6 separate regions of the Homo sapiens genome follow, and all the other regions are linked to region 1. The links come from fine-mapping of genetic effects on gene expression. A gene starts in region 1. Each other region holds a variant in brackets. All regions are shown on one strand. Distances are between the middles of the regions. Region 1 holds the start of AMDHD2 (amidohydrolase domain containing 2). Region 2 overlaps PDPK1 (3-phosphoinositide dependent protein kinase 1). Region 3 overlaps PDPK1 (3-phosphoinositide dependent protein kinase 1). Region 4 holds the start of ABCA3 (ATP binding cassette subfamily A member 3). Region 5 overlaps PDPK1 (3-phosphoinositide dependent protein kinase 1). Region 6 overlaps TBC1D24 (TBC1 domain family member 24).

What was found.
Region 2: its variant is fine-mapped to the expression of AMDHD2 in blood mononuclear cells (TOPMed, PIP above 0.99). The same link has a PIP of 0.9 or more in T cells and whole blood.
Region 3: its variant is fine-mapped to the expression of AMDHD2 in whole blood (INTERVAL, PIP 0.99).
Region 4: its variant is fine-mapped to the expression of AMDHD2 in whole blood (TOPMed, PIP above 0.99).
Region 5: its variant is fine-mapped to the expression of AMDHD2 in whole blood (TOPMed, PIP 0.97).
Region 6: its variant is fine-mapped to the expression of AMDHD2 in lung (TOPMed, PIP above 0.99). The same link has a PIP of 0.9 or more in monocytes, nasal epithelium, pancreas, tibial nerve and whole blood.

Annotation. Positions count from the first base shown.
Region 1 is chr16:2,517,524-2,522,523 of GRCh38, forward strand. AMDHD2 (amidohydrolase domain containing 2) reads left to right here and starts at 2,848. Exons shown (of 11, transcript NM_001330449.2): 1 at 2,848-3,018; 2 at 3,246-3,382; 3 at 3,461-3,600. The coding sequence starts at 2,936. It overlaps ATP6V0C (ATPase H+ transporting V0 subunit c), which reads left to right. Exons shown (of 3, transcript NM_001694.4): 2 at 1,695-1,878; 3 at 2,018-2,695. The coding sequence ends at 2,222. RefSeq lists silencers at 2,714-2,823, 2,994-3,063.
Region 2 is chr16:2,601,531-2,606,886 of GRCh38, forward strand. PDPK1 (3-phosphoinositide dependent protein kinase 1) reads left to right here. Exons shown (of 14, transcript NM_002613.5): 14 at 1-1,658. It also overlaps the pseudogene LOC652276. Among named protein-coding and RNA genes, the nearest start is that of FLJ42627, 35 kb to the right of the region's middle. RefSeq lists an enhancer at 2,042-2,381. The variant T/C (reference allele first, on the strand shown) is at 2,863.
Region 3 is chr16:2,581,788-2,587,143 of GRCh38, forward strand. It overlaps PDPK1 (3-phosphoinositide dependent protein kinase 1), which reads left to right. Exons shown (of 14, transcript NM_002613.5): 10 at 1,625-1,798; 11 at 4,889-5,106. Among named protein-coding and RNA genes, the nearest start is that of PDPK1, 46 kb to the left of the region's middle. RefSeq lists an enhancer at 3,457-3,958. The variant G/A (reference allele first, on the strand shown) is at 3,091.
Region 4 is chr16:2,339,992-2,345,347 of GRCh38, forward strand. It overlaps ABCA3 (ATP binding cassette subfamily A member 3), which reads right to left and starts at 737. Exons shown (of 33, transcript NM_001089.3): 1 at 582-737. It also overlaps the pseudogene ABCA17P. RefSeq lists silencers at 358-417, 588-1,047. The variant G/T (reference allele first, on the strand shown) is at 2,062.
Region 5 is chr16:2,589,657-2,594,822 of GRCh38, forward strand. All of the region lies in intron 11 of PDPK1 (3-phosphoinositide dependent protein kinase 1), which reads left to right. Among named protein-coding and RNA genes, the nearest start is that of FLJ42627, 47 kb to the right of the region's middle. The variant C/G (reference allele first, on the strand shown) is at 2,347.
Region 6 is chr16:2,484,651-2,490,006 of GRCh38, forward strand. All of the region lies in intron 1 of TBC1D24 (TBC1 domain family member 24), which reads left to right. Among named protein-coding and RNA genes, the nearest start is that of TBC1D24, 12 kb to the left of the region's middle. The variant C/T (reference allele first, on the strand shown) is at 2,519.

The DNA.
Region 1 (5,000 bases):
CGCTCTCCTGGAGCATGTCTCTGTGCCTGGAGGTCACCGCGCCTGTGTCCTCACCCCTGCTGAGTGCTGGGACACAGGGTAGGCAAGTTTTGTGGCCCAAATATATCAATAAAATATGAAGAGGAATGGTAGGGGTAGTCCTGGTCCCTTCCACCTCTGACATATGTAGTCTTCTGCAGGTCAGGCTGTTTGTGTGTGTGTGTGTGTGTGTGTGTGTGTGTGTGTGTGTGTCTGTCAGAGATTCACTCTTGTTGTTTGTTTGAGACGGAGTCTCTCTGTGTCGCCCAGGCTGGAGTGCAGTGGCGTGATCTTGACTCACTGCAACCTCCACTCCTGGGTTCAGGCGATTCTCCTGCCTCAGCCTCCCTAGTAACTGGGATGACAGGCATGCGCCACCACTCCTGGCTAATTTTTGTATTTTTAGTAGAGACGAGGTTTCACCATGTTACCCAGGCTAATCTCGAACTTCTGACACCAGGTGATCCGCCCGCCTTGGCCTCCTAAAGTGCTGGGATTACAGGCGTGAGCCACTGCGCCTGGCCAAGTCAGGCTGGTTATTGATCTGCTCCCCTAAAAGACCATGGCATGAGTTCTGTGGGCAGAGAGGGGGCAGGGAGTTGCCAGTGCAGTCCCCACAAGCAGCTCAGTAGGCCCCTGTGGTGGCCCTGGAGGGCAGCTGGCAGAAGTCAGAAAGGCAAATGAGCCCCCGTGACACTGCTGTGTCCACAGAATTCTCCACTTTGAGAATAGGGCCCAGGAGAGGGGAACTGAAAAGAAAGGCAACATTCTCTTGGGAGAGGAAGGAGGGACAGCTCTGGAGGAGACAGGCCACCCTGGAGCCCAGCCCACCAGCACTGTTGCGGTGGGAGGCTTGGGCCCTCTGGCCAGGCTCCTGTGTGCTTGGAGCCACCCCGTGTGCAGGGGAGACCTCTCTGGGAGGTCAGCTGAGGCCTCGTAGTTGGACTGTTGATGATCCCCGTCGTCTTCTCTGCCCCCATCCTCTTCTTGGCTCACCCTGTCTCCTGTCTGGTAGAGAAGATTCTCCAATCTGTCAAGGGTTCAGGCCTGCTGTGTGGCTGAGGGTGCTGAGAGCTGCCCTTTCTGGCAGAATGTTTGGCCCTCCTAGGTTAATATTTGGGGCTGGGAGCGTTGGGGAGCTTGGCCTGGGCAGTGAGTCAAGGGAGCTCTGGCCTGGGTGACAAGAGTGGCCAGGTCAGCTGCTTCTGACCCTCCGGTCACACCCTGTAGCAGTGGCTTTGCCATCCCCAAGACCTTTGGTGGCTTTTCCAGCATGTTGTCCTGGGCAGTAGCCCCAAGGGTCGACTGACCCTGACCCCACATGGGGGCTGCTGAGGCTGCACTGAGGCTCCCTGGGGTGACAGGTGGGTTCACTGCAGAGCCAGGAGCCCCAGATGGGTCACGCCGCCCCAAGAGCTGCTGCTGGAGGAAGAGCTGGACTCTGAGGGTGGGGGCCTCACGTAGAGGAAGGAGGAGTGGCTGTCCTGGCCTCCTTTTGCTTGCCCGTGGCTGTTCCTCCTGGGTCCTCTTGCCCTGGGCTGGATGCCTTCTTCGGCTCCCCCTCTGCATGTGATAACTTGGGGTGGCCCTTGGAGCTGTGCCAAAGCTACACCTCGGGGTCCTAGTCTCAACTGGCCTGCGTACTGCTGTGGGCTCACCCCGCCTTCCTCCCACAGCCCTGGGCGCTGCCTATGGCACAGCCAAGAGCGGTACCGGCATTGCGGCCATGTCTGTCATGCGGCCGGAGCAGATCATGAAGTCCATCATCCCAGTGGTCATGGCTGGCATCATCGCCATCTACGGCCTGGTGGTGGCAGTCCTCATCGCCAACTCCCTGAATGACGACATCAGCCTCTACAAGTGAGCACTGGGGTCAGGCCCCTGCCCAGGGCTGGAGGACTGCAGGGAGGGGGGCGGTTCACCTGTGGGTGGTGACCCGGACCCTTGTCTCCCCCTGGTTGGCAGGCTGCTGATGTCAGTCCTCTCTTCTCGCCCCCAGGAGCTTCCTCCAGCTGGGCGCCGGCCTGAGCGTGGGCCTGAGCGGCCTGGCAGCCGGCTTTGCCATCGGCATCGTGGGGGACGCTGGCGTGCGGGGCACCGCCCAGCAGCCCCGACTATTCGTGGGCATGATCCTGATTCTCATCTTCGCCGAGGTGCTCGGCCTCTACGGTCTCATCGTCGCCCTCATCCTCTCCACAAAGTAGACCCTCTCCGAGCCCACCAGCCACAGAATATTATGTAAAGACCACCCCTCCTCATTCCAGAACGAACAGCCTGACACATACGCACGGGGCCGCCGCCCCCAGTAGTTGGTCTTGTACATGCGCAGTGTCCTAGTGCCCATCGTCTGTTTCCCCGGCCTTGCCCCCGCCCGCCCCGTGCCGTGGACATCTGGGCCCACTCATCGCCCCTCCAGGCCCCCGGCGCCCCACCCCCTAGAGTGCTCTGTGTATGCGGATGATTTAGAATTGTCATTTCTCTTTACTGGATGTTTATTTATAAAGATCTGGCCTGTTCCTGCGTCTGCGGAGCGGCCCTTGTCTCCCAGCTATCTATAACCTTAGCTAGAGTGTCGCCTTGTGGGTTCCTGTTGCTGAGACTTCCTGGATGGAGCCGCCCTCACCGCCGGGCCCGTGGCCCTGCGCGGAGCTGTGTCCAATAAAGTTCTTGGATGTGACGGGCCTGTGTCTGCTCAGCTTGTTGGGGGCGGGGGCGGGCGGGCGGGCGGGCGGGCGCCGGGCGCTGCCGGTCACGTGGGCTGGCTCGATCACGTGGGCGCGGCGGTCACGTGGCGCGCCGCTTCAGTCAGCTGAAGGTCACGTGGGCGCGGTCTCAGCTCTCGGCTGGGGTTCGTCACTGGGCGCGGGATTTGGCCGCCGCGGGGCTCCGGAGCCGCTCGCTCCCGACACGGCTCACGATGCGCGGCGAGCAGGGCGCGGCGGGGGCCCGCGTGCTCCAGTTCACTAACTGCCGGATCCTGCGCGGAGGGAAACTGCTCAGGTGGGCGCGGGCCGGGGACTGCGGGGCTGGGGACCGGGCGGGGTGCAGGGTGCGGGGCCGGGGACCGGGCGGGGTGCAGGGTGCGGGGCCGGGGACAGGGCGGGGTGCAGGGTGCGGGGCCGGGGACCGGGCGGGGTGCAGGGTGCGGGGCCGGGGACCGGGCGGGGTGCAGGGTGCGGGGCCGAGGTCAGGCCCGCGATGCGAGCGCCCACCCACTGCGTCCCCAGGGAGGATCTGTGGGTGCGCGGAGGCCGCATCTTGGACCCAGAGAAGCTGTTCTTTGAGGAGCGGCGCGTGGCCGACGAGCGGCGGGACTGCGGGGGCCGCATCTTGGCTCCCGGATTCATCGACGTGCAGATCAACGGTGCGGCCCGGGGCCGGCAGGGGAACCCAGGGGAGGAGCTCTGAGCTCCATGCGACACTTCCTTTTCTGTGGCTGCAGGTGGATTTGGTGTTGACTTCTCTCAAGCCACGGAGGACGTGGGTTCGGGGGTTGCCCTCGTGGCCCGGAGGATCCTGTCGCACGGCGTCACCTCCTTCTGCCCCACCCTGGTCACTTCCCCACCGGAGGTTTATCACAAGGTGAGGTGAGGCTCCCTGGCTGAGGTGGAGGGGGCTCCCGGAGCAACCAGCGCCCTCATTTTCAAACTCACGCCCCACCCCCCACCCCCAGCACGTATTCCATGGTCCTGAGTCTGGCCTCCTTTGATGACCGGATCTGGGCCTGGGTCCCGCCCCTGTGCTTCTTTATCAGTTGTCGCTCTGCCTGGCCTCCCTAGACCCTCTGTCCTCCGCAGCTGTCTCCACACTGCTGGCTCAGCACCGTCTGAGCCATAGGCCGTCCCCACCCCCTGCACTGCACTCTGGCTGCCTCCAGGCTTCAGAAACCATCCCCTTAACCAAGGCCGCAGGGGATTCTGTGATTGGCACAGCGATAGTCCCTGGTCAGGCTCTTCCTCCCTAACCTGTCTGATGTGTGACTCAGTGGAACACGCCTTCCAGAAGAGACTCCCCCTGCTCCTGTACTGCTTGCCCCACGCTTCCATTTTCTTTCCTGCCCGGAAGAAATTTGGTTGTCCTTGGTCTTTTTTTATTTTAATTTTTACTTAGGTTCTACAGGGTTAACTTTTTGCTGTATGTTACTACTATTCAGGCTCCTCTTGGCTGTACCTGTGCTACTGTTTTTTACTGAACTATTTGAGAGTAGGTTGTATCCAACATGCTTTTTTTTTTTGTTTAGTTTTTTTTTTTTTTTTTTTTGAGACGGAGTCTCGCTCTGTCGCCCAGGCTGGAGTGCAGTGGCACAATCTTGGCTCACTGCAGGCTCCGCCCCCCAGGGTTCACGCCATTCTCCTGCTTCAGCCTCCCAAGTAGCTGGGACTACAGGTGCCCGCCACCTCGCCCGGCTAATTTTTTGTATTTTTCGTAGAGACGGGGTTTCACCGTGTTAGCCAGGATGGTCTCGATCTCCTGACCTCGTGATCCGCCCGCCTTGGCCTCCCAAAGTGCTGGGATTACAGGCGTGAGCCACCGCGCCCGGCCAGTTTTTGTTATTTTTAAGAGACAGGGTTTCTCTCTGTGGCCCAGGTTGGAGTAGAGTGGTGTGGTCATAGCCCATTGCAGCCTCATTCTTCTCTGCTCAAGCGATCCTCTTGCTTCAGCCTCTTGAGTAGGTAGGACTACAGGTGTGTGCCACCATGCCCAGCCAATTTTAACATTTTTTGTAGAGAAAGTCTCACTGTGTTGCCCAGGCTGGTTCTGAACTCCTGGGCTCAAGAGATCCTCCTGTCTTAGTCCCCCAGAGTAGCTGGCACTACGGGCTTGTGCCACCACACCCGACTAATTTAAAAAGCTTTTTCGGCCGGGCGCGGTGGCTCACGCCTGTAATCCCTTTGGGAGGCCGAGGCAGGCGGACCACGAAGTCAGGAGATCGAGACCATCTTGGCTAACACAGTGAAACCCCGTCTCTACTAAAAATACAA
Region 2 (5,356 bases), 84 kb after region 1:
CAAGTGTTGAACTGACCTTGCCACATGCTTAGTGAGTGATTTGTAATTAAGTTTATAGACTCAGAAGGTATATTAGGACATTTGGAATCAGTAGCAGAGCAAAGCCTCTTTGAAAAAAACCACGTAGCTGATTGGGTTTTACAAGAGTGCATTTGTCTCCCCCTTCCACCCGTGGGGCCCCACCTTCAGGTCTTAGTGGTTCACAAGAGCCCAGCAGCCAGGCTGGCTTTTTCATTGTAGGGCGTGGTTGTCCCAGCTGGTGTAGATTTCAGGCCGCCCCCCCCAACTCCCTGCCCACAGTGTTGCAGATTGCCTGGCTGGCAGCAAGTCCAGACCACCCAAATTTGGTTGGATTCTTCATTTCTCCACTGTAGTTGGGGTCCATTGATTGTGCAGGGGAACGTGCAGGAGGTTTTTCTAGGCACCGTGTTCAGTGCTGCTTCACTCTACCAGAGATTATGGCCAAATTGCACGGAATTTGGTTTCTTGCCCTCTGAAGCCTGAGGGCCCCCCCTTGCCTGGCTGGTTGACAGACCCGGGGTGGTCACTGCTGAGACTTCAGAGATCGCAGCTGCTGTGAGAATACGGTGAAGGTACTTTGTTCTGGAAGATGTTGTCATACACTTTTCCCCAGTTATTTTCAAACTTGACATGAGCCTATGTTGACTCACTGGGTGGGGGTCCCTTCTTACGCAGCACACGTGGCAAGTGCCTGAATCGGGGCTGGAGGCACTTCAGAGCCTCTGAGGGGCCACCACTTCTGGCCCAAAATTGCAGGGTTGTAGATGAGGCTGCCTGTGGAGAACTGGTGTGAGGAGGAAGCTGTTTCCAACAAAGAGCACTTTCATCTGTTGAGATGGCTGTGGTGAGCAACTGAACGAGCCTACGTGTGTACCTGAATTTTCCCCGTAACTCATTTCTTCCATATGAAGAAACACCAAACTATGTACAGAGAACTTTTTACAAAAGGCAGACCTTTTTTAAGCTGTGTAACCCACATAGCCTAACCACCTGGCAGAATGACTACGAATAGGGGTCATTGTGCTGGTAAAAGCCTCTATTACGACTGTAAGTAAGTTGGATGTTGGCAAAATTAAATTGTTACAGTATTTAGAGCTGCTGTAGCTGTTCCTTCACAACATAAAATAGGATAAATGACTAGTACGTCTTTCAGGTGGGTGGCAAGCAGAACATGCGTAATATTCTCTACCTGGTCTGTAGCTGTAACTGTGATGTACAGACAAAGCAAAAATTAAAAGAACTTATGAAAACAAATGCAATGATACTAGGATATACACTTTTGTATTTTTATTCTTATATAAGGTTATTTGCTGGCTATTGTTGGCCTCTAGTTCAGTCTGTGTTATTTAAATTCTAATATATGAATTATTTGAATTGAATTCATGTTCGGGGCCACGTTGTTGTATGTATTGATGTACAGCCTTGAATGTGAATAATTATTGTAAACTATATTTTACAACTTTTTTTCTGGCTTTATTATATAAATTTTCTATTGGGTCAGTGATTTAATCATATAATTTAATGAATCTGTTTATCCTTTTTTTTTTTCCAAATACTTGTGCTTTAGGTGTAGTTACCAGATGATGAATTTTCCTCGTATGGTCAGTAGTCTTGTAATAAAAAGCATGTAGAGTGTAGAGGTTTGCTGGCGTGGCTCTTCCTTTGACCCCGCCACGGAGTGGGGGCGCGGTTGGGGGCGGGTGTCTGCCATTGCCCGCTAGCGTTGGCGCCCCAAGCTCGGTTTCACTCCCTCCGGAAGTGGGACCAGCCGGCTGCTTTTCCCGGATGGAACTTCCGCCTGCCATGTGACCGGCGGGTGTTCTACAAGGGCTGACCAGTGGGCGGGACAGAACGCAAAGGGCGATATTAAAAGCCGGACTCTTCCGGTGAAGCGGAGGTGTGGTGGGGCTTGCTGGGATCATGGCGGGGAATCACTGCGAGCTCCTGCCGCTGGCCCGTGGCAGGCTCGGGGCGGGGTTGGGGTGGCTTCTTGTGCCTCCCTTAAAGCGCGGGGCTCAGCGTCCTGGCCCAGCGCCCCAGCAGCAGGTCCAAGTGGGTCCGGCTCTACAGCGGCGGCACCTACTTCCTCACCACTGGGCAGACGCCGCTGTGTCAGGACCCGAAATCCTTCCTGTACCTCTTGAGCCAGGCCGACCCCGACCCGGACTCGGACAAGGTGAGGACCACGTGGGCCAGTCGAAAGGGCCTGGGCCATTTCGGCCTGTGGCCGCCGCACACGCCCTGCTCCACGCCGAGGAGAGCTCAGCAGGAGAGGGCGACTCTCCTCGGGCTTCGAGCCCAACACTCCCTTGTCGCCAGCTCATCCCCAGCTTGCCCCGATCCCCTATCCTGGGAGGGGAGGGCAAGGATGGCGCCCTGGTGTCCACTGCCTTTGAGAATCCTGAGTCGCTTCACCTTGGGGGTGTCTCTTCCTCGCCCTCTTTGCTCTTTGGTGGAGGAGGCTTCCGAGACCCCGGACTTTGCTGTGATTCTACTTTCTTTTTCTCACTAGGTTCTTTTGCCCAGGGTGTGTGAACGCCTTCTCTTCTCTGTCCCAGGGTACTTGCTGGCTCTGGAGACAGAACCCTTGGCGTTTCACATTCTGGACGTTTGAATTAACGCTGACGTGGGGGTTGATATGGGCGGCCCTTTTTTTCCCTGGTGACTTGTATTTAGAGAGTTGGCGCTCCATCCTTTCCATCCACAGCACGCAGCACCCACTCAGCACCTCTTAGAAGATGCGTCCATAGTATATACTGTGATTTTTCGAAGGGGATTTTGCTCATATTAAGGGTTGCTTTAGGGATGTCCAGGAAGGGCCAGGTAAGGAATCTTTCAATC[T/C]GCTTTCTAATTGGCTTAGTTTTCCCACTGTCTTCGCAAAAGGACAGGAATTTCCAGGTTAGTTTGCAGCTTGTCTTTCATCAAGCGAAATGCTCATGCTGTTGGGTAGATGGTAATAGAAACCTTTTGCTACCTTTATTTATCAAGAGTTGTGGAGCCGAGGAACCGTGTCTTGGGAGTTGTGCAGGATTGAAACTCACAAAAAAGCCTGTTTGAAGAAGTTGTTACCTATATTTATTCAAGGCAGTTCACAAGCCTTATACTAACTTTGCGGGGTCTTTCAGTTGAGCTTACATGACTGCGCTTGGCTTTGTGCCTTGGCAGCCAACATTTGCCATGCAGGAGGCTTCCCAGAAAGGTTCGGATCCCTCTTCAAGTTTGAGAAGCCTGACTGAGACCATTCTCAGCATGGCATGACCGTGATCAGGAAATGAGAATCTGGAGTTACTGCTAAGGCAGCCTTGTGGGTGGAAATGAGGGTTTGAGATGCCAACCCTCCTGTGCCTCCCCACAACTTCCAACTGTTTCCATTGCTCATTTGACCAAGCCCTCTACTCAGAGAATTGACCTCCCAGGAAATGACAGTCATCCCCAGGATAGAAATAGGCGTTTGTTAGCTGTGATTTTCCTTTTATAAGTGTGGGTGTGTGTTTTACTGTTTGGTTTTTCTTTTTAAATAACAGGGCTTAGTGGTCACTCCCTTGCCTTTCTACTCAAGCATTCCTGTTTTGTATATGAAATTAGAGTTTAAATTGCTCTTGTCCATTGGGTTCTTTGAGGCAATGGTTGTCTATTCAGCACTGGAGCACTTGATTCCCAGTTGATGAACTATAGCACAGTTAAGGTGGTTGATCCCTTTGCTTTACTGTTCCTTAAGACTTTGTTAAAAATTATGGGCCGGGCGCGGTGGCTCATGCCTGTAATCCCAACACTTTGGGAGGCCCAGGCAGGTGGATCTCGTTCAAAACCAACCGGGCCAATATGGTGATGCCCGGTCTCTACTAAAAATACAAAAAGGTGGGCGCGGTGGCTCACGTGTGTAATCCCAGCACTTTGGGAGGCTGAGGCAGGCGGATCACGAGGTCAGGAGATCGAGACCATCCTGGCTAACACGATGAAACCCTGTCTCTACTAAAAATACAAAAAATGAGCCGCGCGCGGTGGCGGGCGCCTGTAGTCCCAGCTGCTCTGGAGGCTGAGGCAGAAGAATCGCTAGAACCCGGGAGGCGGAGCTTGCAGTGAGTCAAGATCACACCACTGCACTCTAGCTTGGATGACAGAGCAAGACTCTGTCTCAAACAAACAAAAAAATGCTTTACGGTAGGAATCAATTCTTTGGGCGAGGGGTAATTAATCTTTCTGAATATATCTGTGTTATACTTGCTCTTTTCATTATCATCCATTTAACCAGGTTTGATTTCCAAATGGTAAAACTCAAATTCAGAACATGAAGGTAAAGTAGCAGATACAGTCGTCTCTGTCTCATACAATAATTGGAGTAGGGGCCGGGCAAGGTGGCTCACGCCTGTAATCCCAGCACTTTGGGAGGCCGAGGCGCGTGAATCACCTGAGGTCAGGAGTTTGAGAGCAGCCTGGCCAGCATGGCAAAACCCCGTCTCTACTAAAAATACAAAAAAATTAGCTGGGCATGGTGGCGCGTGCCTGTACTCCCAGCTACTCGGGAGGCTGAGGCAGGAGAACCACTTGAACCGGGAGGCAGAGGTTACAGTGGGCTGAGGTTGCGCCACTGCACTCCAGCATGGGCGACAGATCGAGACTCTGTCTCAAAAAAAAAGAAAAAAGAAAAGGAGAAAACAATAATTGGAGTAAATAAGGTTAGTTTTAGTGACAGATAATTTGCCAAAAGTGTAGTGCTAATTCATATTAGTCACGTTACTAAAGTGTTTTCCGGTGTTTTTCATCAAATGAGGAAATGTGTAAAATGCTTCATCTTAGTTTTGTCTCCAGTGGCTCTGATGAAAGAATGTCCCAGGAGATTCCTCCTAATTAAATGCTGACTGAGGAATCTGAGGAGGGGGGGAAGGGGTGTCAGGAGTGGGAGGCCATTAATGACACGTTGGAAGACAAACAGGATGTTGATTCACCTGTAAAGATCTCCAAGGCCTGACCTCAGAGTTGAGATTAAGGAAAGAATATTCCTCGAGTTGGACTTAAGCATGGATCTGGTGGAAGAGTCCCTGCCTGGATTATTAGACTTGTGTGGAGTGAGCACCTGGGCTTGCAGAGTGTGGGGGTCTGGAGAGGGGTTGGGTGGGGAGATTTAAGGGGGAGGAGTTCCCAAGAAACCATAGAAGCTTTGGGTGCCTGAGAGGTTGGGAGAGCACCCTGCTAAAGCATCCTATCTGGTAGGGAGGGGAGCTCTTGACAGACGGGTTGTTAGGGAGGGTGGTGAAAGCCACGCACATCAAGGGGCTGGCTTGATTGCCCTCTGGCCCCACATCTAAGCTTCTGGGCTGTGACTGCCCCCAACCAA
Region 3 (5,356 bases), 64 kb after region 1:
GGCTCCCGTGTTCACAAAAAATGGTGTTTTTAGGGTTAACAGTGAGTGTGGATCATTACACCTAGTCTCGCCAGACACATTGGCTCACGCCTGTCACCCCAGCACTTTGGGAGGCTGAGGCAGGTGGATCACCTGAGGTCAGGAGTTTGAGACTAGCCTGGCCTCTATGGTGAAACCACGTCTCTAGTAAAAATATAAAAATTAGCCGGGCATGGTGGCGGGCGCCTGCGATCTCAGCTACTTGGGAAGCTGAGGCAGGAGAATGGTGTGAACCCGGGAGGCGGAGGTTGCAGTGAGTCGAGATCGTACCACTGCACTCCAGCCTGGGCGACAGAGCGAGAGTCTCAAACAAACAAACAAACAAACAAAACCCAAACGTTTTGAGTACTTATTGTCACTTCTCAGTATCTGCTGGAGAGCACCCCGTACTGTTCCCCGCCCCCCCGCCCCCTCCATCCACCGCAGAGCAACTGGACGGGGAGGCAGGCCCTGGGATCCTGTGCTGCCCCTCAAGGCTCGGCCCCTTTCCTCGCACAGGTGAAAAGGAATCTCAGTCTCAAAACACAATGAACAGCAGCAAGGATTCTTTTACAGTGTATAGTTAAAAATCCTAAAACAAGAAACACTGAGTAATTAACAAAGGGAGCGAATCATCACTGGGACCAGCACGCTCCTGCGCTTGTGGAGTGGGTGTCGCTGGGACCCTCGAAGGCCGCAGAGCTGTCTCCTCCAGGGACTGATCAAGCCCACACCCCAGCCCAGGGGAAAGAGGTGAGACAGGTTGGGAGAAGCCAGTGGCTGTGGAGCCTAGCGATCCCGGGGCCACCTGCAGGGGCAGGACTGAGCCCGCTCCCAGAGTCGTGGTAAGGAGGGACGTCCAGGGCCAAAAGCACAGGAAGGTCAGGAGACTTCTGTTTCTAGAATATAAACTGATACACCTTTCCCAGGCTAACCTCTCTTCTCTGTTTTACCTGGGCTGGTCGTTCGAATTTTCATGTAGCTGACTCTAAAGCTGAAATGTACAGATGTCACGAACTAGGGTCTGCAGCCATCTGCGCTGTCATAACCCCAGTCGCTCCAGCACCAGTAACTTAAAATGCTGTGCAGTGTTGAGCAAATGCTAAATGGTACAGTAATTTCCGTTGATTTCTAAATTTTAGTTTCTTTTATTATTCCTGCTACAGTCATTTCCTGTCAAGAATCAGGCACTTGGAAATGGAAAGGGACTTATGATGAGATGAGATAAATATATATTTTTTTTTTTTTTTGGAGATGGAGTTTTGCTCTCGTCGCACAGGCTGGAGTGCCATGGTGCGATCGTGGCTCACCGCAAATTCTGCCTCCCGGGTTCAAGCGATTCTCCTCCCTCAGCCTCCCGAGTAGCTGGGATTATAGGCGTGCACCACCACGCGCAGCTGATTTTTATATTTTTAGTAGAGACGGGTTGTCACCATGTTGGCCGGGATGGTTTCGAACTCCTGACCTCAGGTGATCTGCCCGCCTCAGCCTCCCAAAGTGCTGGGATGACAGGCATGAGCCACCGTGCCCGGCTACCAGGTTTGGGTTTCTTTGGTCAGAATCACGTTTTCACCCTGGCAGTGACTTGTCTTGATTGTTACTTAAGGTTTTAGATGCCACAAAGCGGTTAGGCTGTGAGGAAATGGAAGGATACGGACCTCTTAAAGCACACCCGTTCTTCGAGTCCGTCACGTGGGAGAACCTGCACCAGCAGACGCCTCCGAAGCTCACCGCTTACCTGCCGGCTATGTCGGAAGACGACGAGGACTGCTATGGCAATGTAAGCTGGCCGGGATGGCGGGCGAGGCAGGTGGCACTGGGTCCTCCGTGCACTGGGCTTCATGCCCGTGCGCCAGACCCACGTGTGATTTGTAGCCGAAAGGGGAGGGTGTCTGTGCCACTGCGGCAGGCCTGCTGGTGGTTGTAGTCTTTGCTGCCGTGAGGCAGTGGCGGGTGAGGTGCTGGGTGGGTCATTTTCTCCTCATTTCCGTGGCCGTGGACAGGCTAGTGAGTTTCCACCCACAGGGTGCCGCTAGAACCGGACGCCGAGCACCCCCGGCACTGGCCCCGGGGTCCCACGTACGGGGCCTCCTGCCCGGCCTGTCGCATCTGCGCTTGGCTTGGTGCTTGTACAACTGTGCGGCCAAGATGCTCCAGAACACTGCCTGTCTTTCCACAGAAACCCCCGAGTGTTGTGTGCTTGAACTTTTGGGACGTGGCGTTGGTGGGGACACTGGTACCTTCTTCAGTGCTGAGTAGGCTCTGAGGCTGCTGGTCTCCCAGCTTGACCACAGCCATGGGGTCTTCAGCACGCTTGGCTCTTTAAGCTTCTCGTAGAGAGCGTGGACCATGTGCCCAAGGGACCGAGGGTGTTGTGAGAGGCAGGCATGTCGCCCACTTCAGCCTTGTTTCCTCTGAGTTCCTCTTGCCACCTCCCCCGTGACCCCCTCGTACTTAAGTGCTGTTATCATGAGATCCATTTTTCTGGTTTGACTTCTGTCGCCATGGCTTATTCTAACTGGCACCGTGTACGGAGTTCCACTTTCCATGACTGAGGAAGTCCAGATTTTGTTTGTTTTGAGACAGGGTCTTGGTGTGTCACTCAGGCTGGAGTGTAGTGGCGCGATCTCGGCTCACTGCAACCTCTGCCGCTGTGGGTTCAAGCGATTCTCCTGTCTCGCCCTCCCGACTAGCGGGAACTGCAGGTGTGCACCACCATGCCCGGCTAATTTTTGTATTTTTAGTAGAGACAGGGTTTCGCCGTGTTGGCCAGGCTGGTGTGGAACTCCTGACCTCAAGTGATCTACCCGCCTCGGCCTCCCAAACTGCTGGGGTTTTAGGCATGAGTTACTGCACCCAGCTGGGAATTCTAGATTTTATCTAAAAGTCATCCACAGCTAAATTTCTGCTAGTGTCAAAGTTTCCCAACGCCCCTACCTGCTGTGTAACGCCCCTCATCCTCCCGACATCCTTTGAGCCCAAACTCTAAGGGAGCCAGGCTTGGGGAGCGGAGTCTGTGCCGCTTGATGTGGCCACCTGCAGCTTTCATGTATGCAGAGGCCTGGGAGCCTC[G/A]AGGCCCTTGCCCCCACCCTGTGTGCCACTCAGCTGCTCCTGCGTGGTGTTTGGTTACGGCTGGCAGGTGCCACGGGGCTGCAGTGCTCTCCCTGCTGGGCCTGCTGTTGCTGCAGAGGTTTTGCTCGCGACTGGCTGGTGGCCGTTCTCCCGTGGGCTCTGTGCTCCATTGCTCCCAGGGAGGTAGCTGGGCTCTGAAGGAGCAGCACAGGCTTCAGTTGTCTCCAGTCTCAATGCCTGGGGAGCTTCTCTGAGTGTGGGGGTGTGTGTGCTTGCACTTGCCGCATACCTGTGCAGGCCCCTGTGCCTGGGCCTACTGAGAGCTGGGGCTGCTTGATACGTGGCTTCTGTTGCCGTCTGTGAAGCCAGGCTCCATTTGTTGGCAGCCGCCTGTTAGATGGCCCATCCTTAGCTCTGCACAGCTGTGTGGTTTGAAAGCCTTGGAGTGGGTCCAGGCAGGGAGCTCCCAGGCCAGACCTCACACGGGGACAGTGAGTGAGTCTTGGCAAACGGTGTCAAGCATGGAAGGAGACTTCAGGGCTGTACCTCCTCCCTCCCTGCAGGGCCGCACCCCCTCCTTCATGGGGAATGGGCACTGGGCGTCCCCTTCAGCCAGGGAGGTTGGCCATGGTACCTGCCCTTGGGCCAAGGCAGGAGAGCAGGTGCTTCGTTGGCTCCTGCTCTCCTGAGGTCCTGTAAGTGCCGGGGCAGTGTGACCATTGGGCAGTGTTGGAGACAAGCAGGCTGGGCAGGCCCACACCCCGTGGAGGGGTCGGCGTGGAGGGGCCGGCGTGGAGGGGCCGGCAGCGTCGGGCGTTTCCACCATGCCCGTTGGCGAGCACCTTGCTCCAGCCCAGCTGGGTGCGAGGCTTTAGGGCTGTGAGGCGGGGCTGTGGTGCAGCTGTAGGAGTGTGAACACATGGGGGACGCTGCATGTGTGGATGGTTGCGTGGGGCAGCAGCCAGGGCCTGCGTCTGGAGGCACGGAGGACGTGGAAGGGCATGCCGCACTCTTATCCTAGCCATTGCTCGTGGCACCTTTTCTTTCCCCTTGTCCTTGGCCTCCACAGAGCTCAGATGTGGGGCCTGCAGCCGGGGAGGTGGCTTCCCTTGCCCAGGGACTCTCTGGCCTTGGCAGTGCCAGGAGCGTGTTAGTGCACAGGCTGTGTCCGCTTGGCACGTTTATGAGTGAGTTTCCGTTGTCGACACTAGCTTGTCTTTTTCCTAGAGTAACAGGCAGCGTTATCTACAGTAAGTTTAGTTTATCTTTGCTGGGATTAAGAGGAATGTCTTTTAAACAATTGAATGTGTTTAGTCAAATCAAAATATTTAGCATCTACCACAGACTCAGACTCCTAAGACACCTGGGGCCCAACAAGGTCTTGCACGGAGGCCCTGTCTGCCAGCCTGTGTGATGGATCTGCCACCAGGCCTCCTTGGGCCCCTTCTCTTCCCAGCAGGCATCCCAGCCCCCACCTCCGGGGGGCAGCACTGGCATTCACGGGGCCCGCAGGGTAAGGGCCCAGGTCCCCTCTTCCTGGAGAGGAAATCTGAGGCTTCGCCCCTCTCTGGCCCTGATTCCCATGGGAAGAGGAGCCCGACCAGGCAGGATCCAGTGAGGCCTCGGTTCTGTGGCCAGGTGTCCCATGGAGGAGAATCAGGGCTGCCCACCCTGTCGCCTTGCGCCTTGCTGTGTGCGAGCTCCCAAGGCCTGACAGCGGCAGTGCGGGAGGGGCTGGGGTTTTAGGACCTTAGAGGCAAGTGAAGGTGCGGTTCTCACTTTCCCTTCTTCTCTGCAGTATGACAATCTCCTGAGCCAGTTTGGCTGCATGCAGGTGTCTTCGTCCTCCTCCTCACACTCCCTGTCAGCCTCCGACACGGGCCTGCCCCAGAGGTCAGGCAGCAACATAGAGCAGTACATTCACGATCTGGACTCGAACTCCTTTGAACTGGACTTACAGTTTTCCGAAGATGAGAAGAGGTTGTTGTTGGAGAAGCAGGCTGGCGGAAACCCTTGGTAAGAACTTATGGACATAAGCAATGCTTTTTGCAGAATTGCAGCGTGAACACGTGGGGGCTTATGGTGGGTGCCTTTGCCTTGTCACTGCCTCCCTCAGCAGCCTTGGACGCTTGGCCAAGGAGCACATCGTAAGTGCACAGTTGGAAACAGGTGCTTAGGAGGCAGCCGGCCCAGGGGCTGAGTGGGTTGTGACCGCCGGGCGCTCCCCTCCTCTGCCGGGCATTTGGACCTGCTGGTTGTGGCCATG
Region 4 (5,356 bases), 180 kb before region 1:
ACACAGTGGAGGGCGCAGCAAACGCCCGCCGCGGACCGTGGGCCTTGGATTCGGATTTGGAGGCTCCTCGGAACCAGAGGGTGGGAGCAGGCGGAATCCAACCCGGGCGGCTTTGCCACCGCGCGCCCGGCATCCCTGCGGCCGGAAAGCGGCGCCATCTCCGCAAGTGCGCGGCGGACGCCTGCATCCCTCGGGGCCGGGGCTGTCGGTCGCTACATATCCACCTTCTGGGCGCACACAGAGGGCCCGGGCCGTGCCGAGTCTCCGCAGGGTCGAGCTTCCCCGCGCGGCGCGGGCTCAGGCACTGCCCGCAGTGCGGGACACGCCCAAGGCTCGGATGGGAGCCGACGCTGAGGGAGCGGCACCTGCAGGGAGCGCCCGGAGCCGAGGCCGCGGCAGGAGGGGCGGGCGCGGGCGCGGCCGGAGGGGATGCGGGGTCGCGGGAGGGGCCCGCAGGCCAGGCCGGAGCTGGGGGGGGCCCGAGGCCCGAGCTGGCCGGCGAGGGTGGGAAGGGCGGACCCGGGTGGGGACCGCAAGCCCCGGGAACGAGCGCGCGAGCGGCGGGTCCCGGCGGCACTCACCGAGCCTGGGCGCCGGGGCGGCGGCGGCCGGCGCGCGGCCCTCTCGCGGGGTCCCCTCCCTCGGCCACCCGGGCTCCGCTCCAGCCTCGCAGTGGCGGCGGCACTGACAGCTGCGTGGCCGCCCTGGAGGGGAGGGTGCGCCTGCAACCCGCTACTGGCGGACGCAGCGGCCGCTCCGGCTCCTGCAGGGGGCGCCGCGGATGGCGCGTGCGCAGTCGGCCGCCCCTGCAGGTGCCCGGTCCACCCCCGGCCGCCTCGGCCGCTCCGGCCAGCCCAACCCCGCGCCTGCGCGGTGCCCCCTGCATGTCGCCCATGCCCGGCAGAGGGCGCTCTGACTTGCGCGTGCGCAGTCAGCCACCCTGCGAGTACGCGGTTCGCACCCGGCCGCGCGGCAGCCCGTGCTTGCGCACTGCTCTGTGCCCGCGCCTATGTCCAGCAGGGGGCGCGCAGCGGCGGTAGCCGAGCGAGGGCGCGGTGGCCTCTGACAGGAATGACTCTGCGCACGTGCGTTTCGCAGCAGTGGAAGTCTTCACACCCGGAAACTCGACTTTGGCCGTTTCTCCATTTCTCCTCACGCACTGTCTTTCCTTGGGCCCTCGTCACTCCTGGCACCGGGGGAAGGGCTTCCCCGCCTCTGGCCGGGCGCTGGGGCGCGACCGAAGGCGAGGCGGCGGCGAGGAACCTTCTGGAATTCGGCCGTCGGGGCAGGCGTCGAGTTTACAGGAGAAGGCGCGGTGTCCCGGGATGAGCGGAGTCGCCCTCACTTAAGGAGCGAGGGAGGCCTCGGGGGTCCCCAGCCGGGTAGGAGTCACCTCAGGCAGGAGGGCCCGGCCTTGTCGGGGTCACCTGGCGGGAGGGTCCCGGGGTGGGGCGGGGCCGCCTGTGAGGAGGGTCCAGAGAGGGTCGGGGTCACCTGAGGGGAGGGTGGGGGGGTTCGGGGATGGTTGGGGTCACCCGACGGGATGGTCCGGGGAGGGTCGGGTTCACCTGAGGGGAGGGTCGGGGAGGGTCCGGAGAGGGTCGGGGTCACCTGAGGAGGTGGTCCGGAGAGGGTCGGGGTCACCTCACGGAGCGAGCGGAACGGGGTCACCTGGAGGGAGTGTCCAGGGCGGGGGCCCTGCAGGGAGTCGCCTGCAGGGAGGGTCCCGGGCGTGTCACATTAGGCGGTCCCAGGGACGGGTCGCGGTCTAACGGGACGGGAGTGGGGAGGTGGGTCGGGGTGTCCCTGGGCCGGACCGGGTCGTGGGACTGGGTCGCCCCAGGCAGGAGAGCCTGGGAGGGGCGGGCCCCCTTGGCGTGGCAGGGAGAGGTGGAGTGAGGGACTCCCGGGCTCCAGCATGAGGGCGGGCGCCGCGCGGGGCCGACAGTTGCCGCGGGCCGGGGCCAATGGGTCCCCGAGCGCCGCCAGCGGCCGGACCACAGTGAGGTGCGTCCGTGGTCCCGGCGCCCCGGGTGAGGGAGGGCTGCTGCCGGTCCTGCC[G/T]CTGGGAGCCGCCTGCGACCCGCACCGCCAGCCCCGCGCCCAGCCAGCCGCCGGCACCACGACCCGACGGCCCCGACCTAATGCAACGCCCCGGGCCGGGGGCGGAAATCGCCCACCCCCAAGAGTCCTGATGGAGTAGGGTTTGAGCGGCTCGTTCCCCATTTTACTGTGTACATAGCACCTTTCACTCTGATGATGTTCTGGATAGCCCATTCCGCGAGCAAAGGGACTTCGTCAGGTTCATGCCTAGATCCAGGGTCCTAGAGTGCCTGGGGCGGAGGAGGCTCATGCTAAATAATTTGTTCAGTGGAATCACAGAGACCTGGCTTCAGATCTTGACCCACCAATTAATGTAGACATGTCATTTTATCTTTCTGAGTCTCAATTTCCTATCCCTAAAATTGAAATTATAATAATAGTAATTAATAATAATAGCAAACTCAAAGGTTTTTTGTTGGTGTATTCTTTTCTTTTTTGGGTCAAATGAGAAAATGCATGTTTAAGTGCTTACTACAATACCTGACACATAAATGCCAAATAAATGGTAGTATATAATGTGAGTATAGCTAGGGATTTACATAGCCTAGTCTCCGTAATGAGCATACAGGGGGAAAAAAAACCCCAAACAATTGAATGCAGTTACAGGATGGGTGGGGGAGTGGATTATTAATGCGCTGCAAACATCCTAAAAACCCCCTTTCCCCATCAGTCTTCACAGACTGCAACACCCCATCCAAAATGTCTTCCCCATTCTCTGCTTCGTCCCAGAAAATGATGTGAACTTGGCTGCTTGGCCCTGTCTTCACCCGGTCATATCCTCAGTCATTTTTCTTTCCAAAACCAATCCTTGCCATTTCCAAATTGAATTTGTTAGACCTTGCACGTTTTTCCGGCCTTTTCAAAACTGGATCCCAATTCTCTGTAACCAAATCCAGTACCAGAACTGGCTGACTCAGAATTTACCTTAGATGGAAGATAGGGTAGGAATTTTGGAAGAAGGATGACCTTACAGATCAAGACAGACAATTGCAGGGTACTAATTTTATATCTTTTTTCTTAACTCTGCCAGGTTAATTGTTAATTATTATAATCACAATCATGAGGTGGGAGGGTGTGAAGGCCACTGGGAAAAGTATCTTATGCCCAAAAATTTCAGGCTCTGAACTGTTAAAAAACAGTTGCCCACAGTGAGCTGGACCCTTTTGATGCCCTTCAACAATCCCTGGATAATTCATCACATTGTGCTCAAGGCCCACTACTGAAAAAATAAAGCAAACCTAGATGCTCCACCTAGTCATTTCTTTCCAGATGGAGGCCCAGATAAGGTCATAATTTCTTCAGAGTCACCCAGTAGAGCTGAGATGACAACCTCCGTGTTCAGGCTCCTGGACTCTACCCCTCTCTTATATGGAAACACTCACATCCATATACCATGAATACATGCTGAGAAATTGAAGGATACACTCCTTGAAGTTACTATGGTTCAAACATTTCTTTTCTCTCAAGATTGATGGTAAACATTATAGTGGATGGTGACACTCATAAACAAATCTTACAGCTTCACAAAAGGCAGTAAACCTAGCCATTATACTAGTCGGCTAGATATAATTAAACCAATAAGCTCCCAATTCTTTGAAGGGGTACAAATACTATACCCTATCTATCTATCTATCTATCTATCTATCTATCTATCTATCTATCTATCTATCTGTCTATCTATTGTATCGTACAACAGTACCCAAATTGCTGATATTCAATACAGTATCTTAGAATAGGGCTTCTTTGATTGTTTCCCTGGGAATGATGTTATAATTCAGAGACGCATTGTAGACCAAGGGCTGTACACATATTCTTTCATTCAGTGATTGGGAAGCATTATATTGTAATGGTTAAAACTGAACTCTGGCCATATTGCCTCAGATTAAATTCCAGCTCTTAATGTCTTTAGGCAAATTACTGGACCTTTCTGTGCCTTGGTTTCCTAGTATAAAATGAGGATTGTATAACAATTCCTCACAGAATTGTTGTGAGGATTAGATGCATTAAAACATGTAAAGTACAGGACTTAGAAAAGTCCTTGGCATTCGGCAAGGGCTCAATAAGTGATCTAAGCATTATACTGTATGCTTTGGAAACAAACGCATGAACATTTTTTTTTTTTGAGACGGTGTTTCACTCTTGTGGCCCAGGCTGGAGTGCAATGGCGCAATCTCGGCCCACTGCAGCCTCCGCCTCCCGGGGTCAAGCGATTCTCCTGCCTCAGCCTCCCAAGTAGCTGGGATTACAGGCATGCGCTGCCATGCCTGGCTAATTTTGTATTTGTAGTAGAGACGGGGTTTCTTCATGTTGATCGGGCTGGTCTCGAACTCCCGACCTCAGGTGATCCACCACCTCGGCCTCCCAAAGTGCTGGGATTACAGGCATGAGCCACTGCACCCGGCCCAACAAATGAAATTTATGTGTTTTGAAGGATCTCACAAAACAGAGTTGCTTAATTCGATTTAGTTTTCACTGTGTGCTTACTATATGCCAGATGAAACTTGAAATAAAAATGTGAATAAGCCACCATCTATACTTTAATAGAATTCAGAGTGCCCAACAATATGTTGTTAGAAGCAAAGATACAGCAATTGAAGACAATACAGACTATGAGTTGCAAAAATGGGCATTAATACATGGACTATCTCAATTATTCAGGGATTTCCTTTGTACTATTAAGTAGTACAGAAACTATAAGTAAGCTGTTTCCTAACTATATTTGTCTAAACCAAATCACTCGCTTTAAAATAGTTATTTTGCTTAGGTTTTAAACATTTAGAAATTTTGAGGAGATGATTTTTATGGATGATTTGCATGCTCTCAAATTAATTTTAAATTTAACAAGTGTTACATGAATATATTCTTGTTGAGAAATTCAAACTAATAGGCAAACCAAAATTCTTTGTAACCGCCATCCCCTTCCCTGATTTCCTCTCCATGGTCATAGTTTGGTAAATAAGCTTCTTAAAGTTTTTTAAATGTATTTGCACACATATATAGATTAGCCTATACAAGTGTAGCATTATTTATCATTTTTCCATAAATGATATTCTGTGGGCATGATTCTTCAGTTTTCTTTTCAGAAATGAAAATTGGACATTTGACATTTGAACCTCTCTCCTGTGTTTGGAAAACTCTCCATCAATGTGATACAATGGTGGAAAGCGGGGTCTAGGCTCAATGGAACAGGTGCTTTTGCAAATGTATTACAGGTGTTTTCCCCAGGTTGTCTGTCAGCTTTTTACCTTTTTTTCAA
Region 5 (5,166 bases), 72 kb after region 1:
CCAGCCTGGGTGACAGAGTGAGACCCTGTCTCAAAATTGGAAAAAAAAAAAAAAAAAAGGTAAAAGGAATTTTTAAATTTACATGGAATAGTTTACACTTAAAAGGAACATTTCAAAAATATGTGTGATGAGCTCTTTAAAATCCAATGTTGTTTGTAACAGCTTTTCAGACAATAAATTAAAGAGTCACTGAAGCTCTTAGAAGCTGCATTGTAGAGGCTGGAGAGGCCACACGGTAGCTGAGAGACAAAGCCTCCGGCTGCAGCACAGCCTCAGGCTTGGTCATCCTGTGCTGCCACAGTCCACAATGCAGTCGAAACTTGCTGGATTCAAGATACGACTGCAGGCACGAAGAGGGAGTTGACATGTCTGCTGCTGAGTTGTGCTTTTGCCTCACAGTGGATGAGTCTACAGACAGCCTGGACCTGTCGCTTGGCCTGTGTCCCCTGGCTTCTCATCACGGATGATGTTCTTTTTTTTTTGAGGCGGAGTCTCCCTCTGTCGCCCAGGCTGGAGTGCAGTGGAGTGATCTCTGTTCACTGCAACCTCTACCTCCTGGGCTTAAGCAGTTCTCCTGCCTCAGCCTCCCAAGTAGCTGGGATTACCAGGTGTGTGCCACCGTGCCTGGCTCATTTTTGTATTTTTAGTGAAGACAGGGTTTCACTATGACTTGAGGCCATGGCACCAAGCAGTGCCAGGGCAATAGTCATATCTTCACAGCACTCACCCACAGGAAGAGAGAGAGGAAAGAAACCAGTCTCGCTTCTGAGCCTTTGTTAAAAATGTTGAATGTTGTGAATACTTTGTGGGATGAAGTGGGAAGTATACAGAAGGGCACTCAATTCTGCCGCAAACATGAGTGTGCAGCCATCTCAGGGGAGACACGCTTGTGGCTGTTGGCCTGCTGTCCTCGCGGAGCGTCTGGCTGACGGGCAAACCGCCGTTATGCAGACTTAGCTATTTGGCCAGTATTTTTCTTGAAAATGATTGGAATGAGCTTGTTACTTTAAGGAAAACAACTGCCTGTATTTATGTCAGTGATAACATTGAAACCTTCAAGTGAAAATTGGAATTTTGGAAAACTTTATTCATTACTGTGAGCCTGATACCTTCCCAATAAAAGACTTTTTTTAGCTATGTTTTTTTGTTTGTTTATATTATTTTTTAAAAAGAAAGAGACAAGCTCTCACTATGTTACCCAGGCTGGTCTCGAACTGCTGGGCTGAAGCATTCCTCTCGCTTATGACTTCCCAAAGTGGTGGGATTACAGGCGTGAGCTACTGCACCAGGCCAAAAGTCTTTTTTTTTTTTTTTTTCTGTTTTTGAAACGGAGTCTCATTCTGTCGCCCAGGCTGGAGTGCAGTGGCACAATCTCAGCTCACTGCAACCTCCGCCTCCCAGGTTCAAGCATTTCTCCTGCCTCAGCCTCCCGAGGAGCTGGGATTACAGGCGTGTACCACCACACCCGGCTGAGTTTTGTGTTTATAGTAGAGACGTGGTTTCACCATATTGGTCAGGCTGGTCTCAAACTCCTGACCTCAAGTGATTCACCTGCCTCGGCCTCCCAAAGTGCTGGGATTAGAGGCCAAAAGTCATTTGATACATAGTGATATCCATGAATTGATCTGTGGAAACCGTAGAATGAAATTTGTCAACGTTTGGAAGCTTTACATCATTCAGCCCCCATGTATGACCCTATGAAATCACATGAGGGTAGAAGAGCCCCTAGTGCAGGGTAGATTGATGGTTTTTAGTGTCACGGTGTGTGGAAATGTATTGTTACGAGTCAGATTTCACATTGCAACCGAGCTTTAAGCAGCCACCACCTTCTGAACTGCAGTGTAGTGTCCAAGAAGAATATCCACAAACATCTACACTTATTCTTAGCCAAAAGGCCAGGAAGTGACTCCAGTCTCTAAAAAGGCTGAGTATACTCCTCCCTTTTCTAGCTGTTTATCTGAGTGAGGCTGGGTGTTTGCCGTGTTCTTCCGCCTGAACACAGATCTCAGCAGAGTATGGGCGCAGGTGGATGCGGGGACCCAGCACTCTCCTTATCAGCCGAACAGGAGAGGCCTGTGCAGCGCACAGAGTGGCACACTCTCCTCATTCATTATTTTTGTTTTGGAAAGTAGTTATTTTAAAAATAAAAGTAATGTATGTTAATAGTAATGGGTTTATTGTATTTTAATGAATTAAACATTTGAAAATGTCTCAGTTTTAATTTCCTGCGTAGTACATATCAGTTGATCTGAAAGCTCTTTGGGGTCTTCCACAGAGGTAAAGAGTGTGAGGGGCCATAGGACTGGAAGGTTGGAGAGGAAACCTGGGGCCCGTCCGCCATTGCCA[C/G]TGGCTCCCGCCCTTACTGGCAGTGAAGCTGAGCCTGCAGAGCCCTCCCGAGGGGTGGAAAAGCCTCCAGCGGGGCTCTGGGTCCTTGCTGGGGCTCTCCTGGGCGTGGCAGGTGCTTTGCCAGTGGCTTTGGGCTTGGATCCTTGACAATGCTCTTTTTGGGGTCTGGGTGAGGGAGGGTGGAGGAGGTGGCAAGAACCTGCGCTTTGGCATCGGGAAAGGGGGTTTTCTATGGTCACCCCTTGTGGATTGCCCTGCATCCTCCTCTGTGCAGAGGTGGGGAGAGGTGTCGCCTGTTTTGAGGGAGCCAAGATGGCGGTGTATGAGAGTGAGGTGCCTCGGGAAAGTCCCGTGTGCATGGCGAGTAGTTAGGTGTGTCTCCAGGTCTTCAGCTCTTGCCCAGCCTCCCAGGGAGGAAAGGGCTCTCAGGGCAGGGGATTTTCTGCAGGAGACAGTAGAAAATCAAGGTGATTGCAGCCTGGCCAACATGGTGAAACCCTGTCTCTACTAAAATTACCAAAAATTAGCTGGGCCTACTGGTGGGTACCTGTAATCCCAGCTACTCAGGAGGCTGAGACAGGAGAATCGCTTGAACCCAGGAGGCAGAGGTTACACTGGGCCAAGATTGTGCCATTGCCCTCCAGACTGGGCAACAGAGCGAGACTCTGTCTTAAAAAAAAAAAAAATCAAGGTGATTCCTGGAAGTGCTCACAGCAAGGAGCTGTTTCTGTCGTGAGCTGGCAGGTGAATCCGCTGCACACACGCTGTGCTCTAGATGCCGCCAGTGGAGCTTTGCCCGCAGTCTCTGTCCATGCACCCTGGGCCACCGGGGAGTGGAATTGTCCATTTCATTGTCTCTCTCAGGGGATGCTGGCGCGGGGGTGGGTGGCGCCTGTCCGTGGGGCCCTTGCCTGCCTCCCCGTGGTGCTGGCGTGTTCTGTCACTGAGCCACTCTGGGGCTTCAGTGTCCCTGGCATGGGTGACACTGCTGGGAGTGCCTCTGGGCTCCTTGCCTGTGGCCTTTTTTTTTCTCAGGATGGATTTCTGGAAGCGAGGCTACTTCTCAGTACTATTTCCGAATCGCTTCCTCAGTGAGTCCTCCCCAGGCTGCAGGTGCCGAGCGGGAGCACCACTCCTGCACGCCCGTGCCTGTGGCATGCCCAGATGATCAGGGTGGAGCGGCCCAGCTCAATGTCTTCATTTAGGGCCATTGAGAGTTTCTTGTGTCACTGAATTCCTCTTCTGGGAATTTTTAGTTTGTGTCATTTTGTTGAGTTTTCTGTTGGGTTCCAAGCCTCTCGTGGCACTGTGAATTTGCTGTGGGGTGCAGCTGATGGCCCATGGCGGCTGTATCTGGAAGTCCTTTCCCGCCCCAGCTGTGGTCCTGGTGGTTTTTTAGGTGGAGGTGGTTTCGTCCTCTTTCCGTGGCTCCCACAGCTCAGTGCTGGGCTGCTGTTCTCGCTCTCAGCCAGGAAGGCGGCCCCTCCCACACAGGTTGCAGGGATGGGCTGCTGTGTTCTTCTGGTTTTTCTCTCCTTCGAGTTGGTATTTTAAACCATGCATCTCATCACCTCTTCTGGCACTTGCTGGCGTGTGGTGAAAGCTGAGGATGGGGAGAGGCCGTGGGGCCCTCTCCGTCCTCATCTGCCTGCAAGAGCTCTGACTGGCCTGGGCTCAAAGGGACCCTGTGCCTCCCACGCTGCCTGCCCCGGTGTAATTTATGATGAATTTTCCTTTGTTGTTCCTCTGCGCTGTTGCCTGGTCACAGGCCTGTCTGTCAGAGTGGCTTCCTGCCGGCTCTGTGGTCCCTCCAGGCATTTCTGTGCTCTATGCTTTCTGTGCTGTGGTGGGTCTTCCTCATCACATGTCCTTTTCAGGAACCTCCTTGATCTGTTTCTCTTTGTTTTAATACCCACATTGTGTGTGTTTGCAGGCGAAGTCCCTGGTGCGAGAGGAGGGCTGCACTTGCCCGCATGCCACACACTCCTCTTGCTTCAGACCCACAGGATGGGATGTGTGTGTGAGGCCAGGCCCTGGGTCCTCCCTCTTGGGGCAGGCCTGGGCACTGATCTGCCCAGGTCTGGGTGGGTCAGATGGTGGGGCTGGGTAAGCCCTGGGGGAAGATGCTGTGCCCCCAACTCGGCCAGTCCGGTCTTCTCACAAGTGCTGTTGGCCCTGTGTGCAGCCAGGCAGGCGTGTGGATGTGCTCAGATATTGATTTGATCATCTTATGCCTTCTTCAAATATAAAACATATTATTGGCCGGGGGTGGTGGCTCATGCCTGTAATCCCAGCACTTTGGGAGGCCTAGGTGGGTGGATCACAAGGTCAGGAGATTGAGACCATCCTGGCTAACATAGTGAAACCCCATCTCTGCTAAAAATACAAAAAATTAGCTGGGCGTGGTGGTGCGCACCTGTAGTCCCAGCTACTTGGGAGGCTGAGGCAGGAGCATCAATCACTTGAATCCGGGAGGCAGAGGTTGCAGTGAGCCAGGATGGCACACCACTGCACTCCAGCCTGGGCGACAGAGCGAGACTCTGTCTCAAAAAAACCAAACAAACAAACAAACTGCATATTATTTCTATAGTAGAACCTCAGATCAGGAATTTCCGTAAGATCAGATAGAACACAAACCAGTAACTGTTAGCTTTAACCACATGAGGTAAACTGCAGACATTAAAATAGTATCTTGGGGCCGGGCGCGGTATCTGATGCCTGTAATCCCAGCCCTTTGGGAGGCCGAGGCAGGCGGATCACTTGAGGTCAGGAATTCGAGATCAGCCTGGCCAACAGGGTGAAACCCCATCTCTACTAAAA
Region 6 (5,356 bases), 33 kb before region 1:
AGTGCACAGACAAGTCCAGTGGCTCTCTTCCGTCGTGGTCCACTGTGCCAGCTCCATTGTTCCAGGGCTGAGGCCTAGGGCGGTGGGGCTATATGGCAGGAGGAGTGTCTGCACTTTGGGCCTCTGCCTGGGATTTATTTGTGTCTCTGAGGCATCCAGCAGACTCTTGGAGGACAGGATGAGGTGTTCCCTGGCCTTTCCCAGCACGTAGGTGGGAGGCCTGGGCCCCTCATGAAGAAATCAGACTTGGCGTGGACTTGCAAGGAAGGTCCCCCAGCCGGAGGAGGCGTCATCCCCTCCCTGGGGCTGAATGCTGGGGCCACCTCTCCCCTCATGCCTGCCATCCACACCCCGCTCCAGGTCTGCTTTTAGGCCCCAGTCCCTGCCCCATCTAGTGTGTTCTTCCAGCCTCCCTCCACCTACTCTCCCAGCACCTCTGTGATGTTGTGAAATATCTATTTGGTCTTTGTCCTTGTTTAGTGACATACAACTCCTGAAATCCTCAGAATCTCCGTGGTGCTCTTTCTGTGCGCTGGTGTTGACTGATAGCTTCCGGGTGGCGCTGGTCACTGGAAAGACCAAGGCAGGATTAGCGGGTTAGAACTTTCAGCCCCACCCCCAACCGCGGGGAGGGGAGAGGTCCAGAGGTGGAAGGTCAAGTTGATTGCCAGTGGGGTAATCAGTTATGCCTACTTAACAAGGGCTCCATGTCAACCCTAGAAGACAGGACTTGGAGAGCTTCTGGACAGCTGAATAGGAGGGAGTGCCTGGAGGGCAGCACCGTGTCCCTCTCCCGTACCTCACCCTAAAGGTCTCTTCATCTGTGTCCTTTGTAACAACCTTTATAATAAACTAGTGAATGTAAGTGTTTCCCTGAGTTCTGTGAGCTGCTCCAGCAAATTCATTGAACCCAAAGCAGGGGTTGTGGGAACCCCAACTTGAAGTTGGTTGCTGAGAAGTTCCAGAGGCCTGGACTTCTGACTGGTGTCTGGAGACGTGGGGGGCTTGTGGGATCTGAGCTATCTCCAGGTAGATGTCTCCCGGTGTCGGGATTGAATTGGAGGACACCCTGCGGGCGCCCGCTGCAGAATGGATTGCTTGCTGCCGGGAGAAACCCCCGCATCTTCTGGGTCGCAGATCCTGTGCCGATTGCGGTGCTGGCGTCAGAGCAGAGGAAAACGTGGTATGAGAGTTTTTCCAAAGAGTCCAGACACGCTTCCAGGCCCTCTCAGCCACCCCCACACCGTCCCTACCATTCCCACCTGGCCCGCTGCTGCCTGTGCCCCAGGGTTTCCGGGCACTCCGAGCTTCCCTGGCAGGCAACAAAGCTCTCATCCCTGGATCTTGCGGATCTCGCGCCCGGGCTGGAATGCCTGTGCTGCCCTCCCCTGCCTGGCGGGTGGGGTCGGTGCTCAGGAGCGGGTGGGGCCTGCCGGTCTCCCTAGCCCACCACCAGGTTTCCTCTGTATCCCCGCAGCACTTGGCAAGGTCCAGGGGCTTCCGTGGGGAGCGAGATTGTTTTGGATCCCGCCAGGGGAGCCCACTGAGAGGAGCCTGCATCTCCTATCACGTGAAGCCCGCAGGGGCCACAGCACCTCCTTCCTGTGGTCCCTAGCTGCGGGCGTTGGCGTTCCCCACCCATGGGGCCCGGCCTCATTTCCTCTTCCTCTTCATTCCCGGTCCCACTCCCAGGAAATGGTGAGGGATTGCTCAGACCAGATGGGAAGAAGTGAGACGAGCGGCAGCTGACGCCCATGCCCTGTTCTGTGGCCCGTGACTGAGGTCCAGCCACACAGAACCCCGCGTCCTTGATAGCTTGTCAGCTGCTGGGACGGGGGCTGTTCTTGTGGCCAGGATGTGTGTGGTGGTCAGGCCAGGGCAGGATGGGGCCCAGGCCTGCAACCCCAGCTCTTCAACCTGGAGTCCTAGCGAACACTGACCTACGTTGGGACAGGGCTGCCTCTTGCCCAGGGGGCTGCAGTTGGCCCCTTGGTGGCATCTGGGAGTGTGTGGGAGTGCCTTCTGTGCTGTGGGCCTCATCCCCAGGGCTCTACCTCCAGCCTGAGCTGCTCTGGCATTTGCCTAAGAAGCATCTGTATCGAAACTGGCTTTGAAAACTTCACAGTGGAGCTTCCCTGGGCTGGAATTCTCTGTTTGTCGCTCGCCCCCGCCTCCAGCATCCCCAAGTGGCCTGGGCTCTGACTGCCACTGTCAGGCCACGGTCCTGTGGGATCCAACCCTGAGCCATCTCTGGGGGTCCCCTCATCTTCTCCACCCTCCCGGTCTAGACTCTGCCTTCCTTTCTCCCTGGCTTCTCTGTCCCAACCCTTCCTCCTCCAGGGCCACCAGGGGGATTTTTGTAAACGCAGATCTGATCGGGTCACCTGCCTAGACTTTCCTCCTACCCCGTGTGGGGACACCCGCCTCTTAGCGCATCCCAGCCCCTCAGCACTGCCAGGGCCGCCCAGCTCGCCTTCGCCCACTCTTGCCTCCACATCTGAGGGGCACCGTCCCCACC[C/T]ACAGGCTGCCTCCACACCTTTCCGCCCCTTCCACAGCAGCAGGCACAGCCCTGCCCGTGGGGTTCCCCTAGCACTTCCCCAGCTGCCGTGGTTGACAGCCTTCTCTCAAGCCGCCTCTCCCTGGCACAGAGGCGGCACCTCAGTGGAGGTCTGTCATGTGACTAACTGCAGGACGAGGGAGCCGCGGTCGTATGCTGCCTCCTCACGTTTGCTGTGACCTGGGACAGGAGCGGTCCCCAGGAAGGGAGGCACGGTGTCGGGGTTGGTGTTGGCCGTGTTAAAATGTCATCAATGAGGCTAAATGTGTGTTCTGTCTTTGTACATGAAAGAGAGTTTGTTTTCAAATCCGGTTGTTTGGGAAAATCACATTCCCCTCTGAAGAAGCGAGACGTGCAGAGGCCTCGTGACTCAGGCTGTCAGGCCTGGAGTTTGGTGCTGGAGTTTTGTGCTGGAGTTTGGTGTTGGAGTTTGGTGTTGGAGTTTGGTGCTGGAGTTTGGTGCTGGAGTTTGGTGCTGGAGTTTGGTGCTGGAGTTTGGTGTTGGAGTTTGGTGTTTGGGGATGGCAGGTGGTGTTACTAGTGGCAGCCTTGCCGGGGTGGCCTGTGTCTCCAGGACTCGTGGGAGGGCCCTGGTACTAGAAGTGGCCGAGTGCCCTGAAGTCCCAGACCTGCGTGGGTCCTGCCTGTGCTCAGGGACCCTCTGGAGCCTCTCTCGGAGGTCCTCGCTGTCCCAGGATGAAGGGAGATGGAGCAGCAACAGCAGCCAGCAGCTGTGGGGTTGTGTTCCGCCCCGAGGCTGGGGTGAGCTGCTTGTCTGCTGGAGCGAAGGGGCCAGCTGCCCCGCTGGGGCCCCTCCTGCCCCGTTCTCCAGTGAGGATCTACTTCCTCCCACATCCATGCTACCTCCCACCTGCCTCCTGGCTAGAAATTAGCTCAGGGTGCCACACTCTTGACAGACGGCCCGCCTCCCAGCCCTGGCCGCCTTCCTCTTCCTGTGGGCGCCTTCAGGGGGTTTGCTGCCAGGGACGGATTTGGGGGTTTCTTGGAGCTCCCATGGAGTGAGGACATAGGCTGCTGTTGGGTGTTCCTGGCTGAACACTGGTCAACTGGCAGGAACTGCCCTCCCTGGGAAGGCTGCTGGGGCTGTGGCGGGGTGGGGGTCTGCAAGCCTGTAGCCATTTAAAGGGCCCCTCCTCACATGTGGTAGAGCCAGAACTGTGCCCTGTGGCCAGAGGGCACGGTGGTCACATGCGTCAGATGACATATCAAGATAACATTTTGGGGAAATAGAAATCGCTTATACTCATTACTCATTCGCACATAGCTTTTTTTTTTTTTTTTTTTTTTTTTTTTGTGGGATGGAGTCTCGCTCTGTCGCCAGGCTGGAGTGCAGTGTGCAGTGGTGCAATCTCGGCTCACTGGAAGCTCTGCCTCCCGGGTTCACACTACTCTCCTGCCTTAGCCTCCTGAGTAGGTGGGACTACAGGCGCCCGCCACCACACCTAGCTAATTTTTGGATTTAGTAGAAATGGGGTTTCACCATGTTAGCCAGGATTACAGGTGTGAGCCACCGCACCTGGCTGCTTTTTTTTTTTTTTTTTGAAATATTTGGCCGGGCGCGGTGGCTCACGCCTGTAATCCCAGCACTTTGGGAGGCCGAGGCGGGTGGATCACGAGGTCAGGAGATCGAGACCATCCTGGCTAACACGGTGAAACCCCGTCTCTACTAAAAATACAAAAAAAAAAAAAAAATTAGCTGAGCGTGGTGGCGCGTGCCTGTAGTCCCAGCTACTTGGGAGGCTGAGGCAGAAGAATCACTTGAACCCGGGAGGCAGAGGTTGCAGTGTGCCGAGATCGTGCCACTGTATTCCAGCTTGGGTGACAGAGTGAGACTCCTTCTCAAAAAAAAAAAAAAACAAGAAAGAAATATTTGCTTTGGAGCAGGAACAGAGTGAGACCCTGTCTCAAAATGAATGAATGAGGCATGGCCCAATGGCTCACGCCTGTAATCCCAGCACTTTGGGAGGCTGAGGCGGGCGGATCACGAGGTCAGGAGTTCGAGATCAGCCTGGCCAACATGGTGAAATCCCATCTCTACTAAAAATACAAAAAAATTAGCCGGGCGTGGTGGTGGGCGTCTGTAGTCCCAGCTACTCGGGAGGCTGAGGCAGGAGAATGGTGTGAACCCGGTAGGCGGAGTTTGCAGGGAGCCGAGATCGCGCCACTGCACTCCAGCTTGGGCGACAGAGCCAGACTCTGTCTCAAAAAATAAATAAATAATAAATAAATAAATAAACGAGCGAACAAATGAATACAAACATTTGCTTCTGATCTGCAGGTACCTTGAGCTCTCAAACAGGCGTGGCGTTTATGAGGAAAGGCCATGTAGGTCCCTGGAGAGGCTTCCCGGGTGAGAAAGAAGCCGCACTGGGTATGGAGGGCAGCTTGGCTGTGGAGAGAGGCATTAGGAGGGGACGGTGGCCTGTGAGAGAGCTGCCCCTGGCCCGTGCAGTTGCACCTCCCTCTGCAGGACCGGCTGCGTGTTGACCCGCTGGGACCGTGATGTCCCAGGCATTCTAGAACACCTTTCTAGCACCTGGCCTGGGACCCTGTAAGGATGAGAGCATCCTCAGGCAGCTGAGCGGTCCTGGCCGGCCGGGCTGGGCTGAGTGCTTTCTATCAACAGGCTCAGTAAATCCCGCAACAGAACAGGGACTAGAGCCCATCCCTTGCCAGTTTCCCACTGCGCTTGGAATATAATCCACGGGGGCTTGTGGGTGTGTCCGTGCTGCCCTCTGCGCCCTGTAGCGCAGCCAGCCTGTTCCTCCCTCAGCCTTT